Linked DNA regions of Homo sapiens: region 1 is linked to region 2. The links come from fine-mapping of genetic effects on gene expression. Tissue or cell type: whole blood. Region 2 holds a variant in brackets; the other region holds the start of a gene. All regions are shown on one strand. Distances are from middle to middle.

The links. PIP is the estimated chance that this variant, and not a neighbour inherited with it, causes the effect.
Region 1: it holds the start of TGS1, and the variant in region 2 is fine-mapped to the expression of TGS1 in whole blood (GTEx, PIP above 0.99).

Annotation. Positions count from the first base shown.
Region 1 is chr8:55,772,096-55,774,595 of GRCh38, reverse strand. It overlaps TGS1 (trimethylguanosine synthase 1), which reads right to left and starts at 1,150. Exons shown (of 13, transcript NM_024831.8): 1 at 877-1,150. The coding sequence starts at 977. It overlaps TMEM68 (transmembrane protein 68), which reads left to right and starts at 1,218. Exons shown (of 8, transcript NM_001286657.2): 1 at 1,218-1,327. RefSeq lists enhancers at 712-1,041, 1,813-2,316 and silencers at 1,182-1,371, 1,462-1,591.
Region 2 is chr8:55,685,571-55,688,422 of GRCh38, reverse strand. No RefSeq gene overlaps it. Among named protein-coding and RNA genes, the nearest start is that of TMEM68, 86 kb to the left of the region's middle. The variant C/T (reference allele first, on the strand shown) is at 1,265.

The DNA.
Region 1 (2,500 bases), 86 kb before region 2:
ATTGTATGACTACATGCATGCCTGACTAAAAAGGCGACAATACTTTTTACATTAAATTTAACAAGTTTAACTTCTTTTTGCGTTTTCAAATTACTCCACAAAATTACACGAGAAAAATGAATTCCTTCAAACTTAAATCCTACTATATTAAACTATATTAAAAGTCTATCACATAAAATTCACTTCCACAAGGATTTAACTCTAACAAAATAAGCATGTGAGATTAAATATACCCGTTATAGAGATGAAAAAAAGGTTCAAGTGGTTTAACTCACGCATTTAATATAAAGGAAACAATTCCTAGAATTCAAGTCTCTTGGCGGTATTATTCCTGCATACTAGCTATTTTTCATGTGGGGCAATTTTTACCTGATTCAAAGATTTCCCCAAAATAAAGATATCACAAAAACTGATGTAAATATGGTTAAGTCTTTTATCTCAACTAGTTTGAAGTTTTAATTATGTGCATTTGGGCTTAAGTAGATTTTTAGGTTTAAAAAAAGACGTTAACCAAAGCAAGTCACTCAACTTTAAACTTTCACTTTATGACATCATATCTACTAGAGATTTCATTTTACATGTCGCTTTCCCCCAATTTTTAAATGTCCCCTCGATTTACAAATATGAGATGACATATAGCACCTACGACATTTTTTCATAGCAGCCTACCAAGTAGATGTAGTCCTTCACATAAAAATAATGGCAGTGGGCGACCACTCCGTCATGTCTGAGGGTTTTGTTTTTCTTAAACATCACCGTGCCCAAGGGTCAGATGTTCTGGCTGCTTTCAGGGATCAATTACAACCACGTTTGCAATACCTACATTTCTGGGTAATGACTGTGCTAGAACATGAAGAGATTCTCTTTTCTACTTACTCCACAAATGCCCTGGAGCAAAGGCACAGTATCTTACAATCCTCCCGCTCCTCAATGAAGAGAAACATTTCCGCCACGCGGCTCCACTTCTCGCAGCACATTTTACCACTTCGGAGGCAGCTCTGACGTACGCAGCCCGGGTCGCGCCTGCCGGGCCTCCGCTCGGTTACTGGAGACTTAAAACAGGCCTCGCCCGCAAGCCCTGGATGAGGAGATAGAAACTGGCCCGCGGCCGCTCGCGCCGGGAACTAGCCCGGACGCTGCCGCCGGAAGTGGCTCCGAGGGGCCACGGGAAGGGGCGGGACCACGGGCGGTGTCACCCCCATCGCGGCCCGGGCTGCAGCCGCCGCTTGGCTTCTTTCACACGGGTTGCTTCGGAGGAATCCGCCGTGCAAATCTGTCCGCCCCCTTGGCCACTGATCCCCCGAAGAGCTTCTGTCGCCGCTCTAGGGTAAAGGAGAGCTGCCCCTGCCCCTGCCCCCGCCTATCCGAGGTGCGTCGGCCCCCGCGCTTCTCCAGCCCGGCATCGGGTCTGGCGGGACTGGGAGCGGCGGAGGCCGCGCGCGTCCGGTCTCCCAGGAGCCGCCTCGGAATCCCCAGTCTCTTCGCGGGCAGGCTCGGCTTCCCGCCGGCCTCAGTGTTGCGCCCCAGCGCCAGAGTGGCCGGGTGTGGAGATCCTCCCTCCTCTGGGTCAAAGAGCCTGCTCTCCCCGCCCCTCTTCTCCCCTGGCGCTCTAAACCTTCGGTTCGGCGCGTTTCATCCTAATGCATCTGGTGGGGCGAGGCGTCTCTAGCCTCTGTAGAGGCCTCTAGGCTTGCCCAGTGGCTTCGCTGGTTCCGGGACCCAGGTCGAGCCTCCGGTGTAAAAGCCAAGGGGAAGTGTGTGGTGATCCCGAGAGTGTAGGGGGAAAGCCGCGTGGGTAGAGCGTTCGTATCCAGACCGATCAGGCTTGGAATCCTGGTCCTACCTTGTGACCTGGGCAGGCAACTTCACCTTTCTGAGCTTACCTTTGATCACCTGTGAAATGGGGTTGATTAATAGTAACTACTACATGAGGCTGCAGGGAGGACTAAACGAAATGATGTATATTACACCTTTCCTTTGTGCGCTTAATCGTTGGCGTCGGTTTGGACCTTGTAGGCGTTAAGTGCTGTCTCGGTCCCTGGGGTTTGCAGCCTGTAAAACAGGTCTCTGCCTTCAAGTTACTAATTATCTAATAAGAAAAAAGTTCATGTGGGCATAAATAGGATGGAGAAAATGGAAACAGCAGCGTTGCTGGATCTGTTAAAAAGCAGTTAGTATTTGGTGTGTGGTATTCATGGAGGCTGCACGGGCAACTTCTTCAGAGACAAGCTCAGACTTGAAAGTTGGAGCGCTTCGGACGTGGTTGGTGCTACGAAATGCCAAAATAGTATTGGTACTTCTTCAGAACTATATAAAAACTGAGCTAAAATTCATGCATTTTGAATGGTATTTTCAATAGTATTTTGGCCACATTTACTAGTTAGTGGAAATATTCATTTTCAAATGTTTATTCCCACCTCCTTACTGCTGCCCTACTTTGAGGTCGGAGATAGGCTGATTTTGTTGGTTCAAGAAGGTAAGAGTGCTGCACGGTTACAGA
Region 2 (2,852 bases):
TTGTTTTGAGATGGAATTTGGCTCTTGTTGTTCAGGCTGGAGTGCAATGGCGTGATCTCGGCTCACCACAACCTCTGACTTCCAGGTTCAAGCGATTCTCCTACCTCGGCCTCCTGAGTAGCTGGGACTACAGGCGTGTGCCACCGTGCCCGGCTAACTTTGTATTTTTAGTAGAGATGGGGTTTCTCCATGTTGTTCAGGCTGGTCTCGAACTCCTGACCTCAGGTGATTCACCCACCTCAGCTTCCAAAAGTGCCGGGATTACAGGCGTGAGCCACCGTGTCTGGCCACTTATGACTATGTTATACTTCCACCTCTTCTATGATCTGTGTTTGACAGTCCTCTTAAAATGCAGTATCTGGAGTTGATACCATAGTCCCAATATGACTGGACTGGTACTGAATACAATAACTCTATGTCTTTTCTTGACCTGGCTGTTCTTTTTAATGAACTCAAGATTGCACTAATCACCTGACACAATTGGCTCATATGAAGTCTATAGTCAAGATAAAAATTCCAGCTCTTAGGCCAGGCACAGTGGCTCACTCCTGTAATCCCTGCATTTTGGGAGGCTGAAGTGGGCAGATCATACGAGGTCAGGAGTTCGAGGCCAGCCTGGCCAACATGGTGAAACCCCATCTTTACTAAAAATACAAAAAATTAGCCAGGTGTGGTTTTGGGCACCTGTAATCCCAGCTACTCAGGAGGCTGAGGCGGGAGAATCGCTGGAACCTGAGAGGTGAAGGTTGCAGTGAGCTGAGATCATGCCAGTGCACTCTAGTCTGGGGGATAGAGCGAGATGCCATCTCAAAAAAAAAAAAAAAAGAATCTCAGATCTTTTCACAAGAACCGTTTTAAACCCGTAGGTCACCTGCAAAAGGGGAATGAGATTTCATTTCTCTGAGAATTGTACTAGATATTGTTGATTGTCTAACCCAGAGTCATTCTTTTCTTTTCTTCTTCCTAACAAACCCTACTTTTTTGCAGGTATTTGCCCCTTCTCCAGGAACCCTGTGTGTCTCAAGAAATGCTGGCTCCACTTGCAATTCCAAGGGTGGCCTGATTGATCAAAAGGCGATCTTGTGCCTTTGACTCATTAACAAATAATTTTGGCCCAGGAGATGGAAGTAGAGCTGGGCTGGACCCTTCTAGGAAAGCTTTTCCTCCCTTTTCTGGGTGAACTCCTGGAAATGACCCTTTCTTTCTCTGGATTTATTGCACGTGGATGTGAGCCCTGGATCCGCTGTGGACATGTCATCCCCAA[C/T]GTGGGATGAAGCTTGCATTACCACAGGAGGCCAGGCAGAGAGATTTCAGGGAAATAGAGATAAGGCCATTGGGATTTGAACCTACTGAGTCTAGATAAGGCCTAGAGATAAGTCAACCCTCTAGGCCTTTTTATACCCTGACTTCTAGCTATGTGAGCCAATGCATTTCTGTCTTGTTTAAACCTTTTTGGATTGAAGGTTGTTTTTTTTTTTTTAATTACACATGTCCTGACTAATGTGGCTATCAAATGGTATAACATTTAGTTGTTATGTATTAGTTTTCTTTCCCTCTGACATGATGGTGGTAGCATGGTGTGGTGATTGTGTGTGTGAGCTTTGCATTTCAAGGTTCCCAGATAGTTTCCTAGCTTCACCTCCTCCAAGTTGTGTGACCTTGGGCAGAATGACTTACCCTCCAAGCCACAGGTCACTTCTATGAAAAGCAAGGGTAATAAAAGTTCCTGTTTCAGATTTGCTGAGAGGATTAATGAAGTCATCTATGTAAAGCAACAGTCCCCAACCTTTCTGGCACCAGGGACCAGTTTTGTGGAAGACAGTTTTTCCACAGACTGGGGGGCTGTTTGTGGTGGGAGGAGTGGGGGATGGTCTTGGGATAAAACTGTTCCACCTCAGATCATTCAGATCATCAGGCATTAGATTCTTATAAGGAGACACAACCCCGATCCCTTGCATGCGCAGTTCACGATAGGGTTCGAGCTGCTACGAGAATCTAATGCCGCTGCTGATCTGACAGGAGGCGGAGCTCAGGTGGTGGAGCCCGCTGCTTATCTCCTGCTGTGCAGCCAGTTCCTATCAGGCCAGCGAATGGGGACTGAGGACCCCTGATGTAAAGGATTTAGTGCTTTATGCTATCTAGCTGCATGATGCACAAAGCACAAAGTGCAGGGCCAGGCTCATGAGAAGCACTTGGTACTCAGTACATTTCAGCTATTATTATTCACTTCCGTGTGTGTGTATATGTGTGCGAGAATGTGCAGCTTAACTGTTGGACCTATATTAAGCACTTCACTTTTTCTGGGTTATGTTTTATATTCTTTTTCACCCTATCATTTCAAGCTGTAGTGATCTCTCTGACTCTTACCGTCCAACATGCTGAAATTTCTTTTCTTGAATATAATTTATGTATTTATTTTAACATCTTGCTTTTGATTGTGATGTTTCTTAAAGTTTTGGTTCATCTAAAGATTCATATGCACATGTCCTCTTGAGCTCACTCCAAGCTGTTAGTAAAAGGGTTGGTATGGCCCCTTCATCCTGCCAGTAGAGATTTCCTTTGAATGTTATTTGCCCCAACCTGATTTCAAGCCCCTGTATCCTGCTTCTCTCTATTTCCCAAGTCACCTGATTTCCACTTGCAGGTTCTACCCTTTTTAGAGTCTGGGGGAAGAAAACTAACATTCGTTAAGCACCTGACGTATGCTAGGCTCATTGCTAGGTGCTTTATGTGTTATGCCTTTTAATCCTCACCCTAAGTGTTCTGTAAACACAGAAGGAACTTGAAGCTCAAAGAGGTTGAACAACTTGCTAGCAAAGAGCTGATCTCTGCAAAAGGCTGTGACTTTTCCA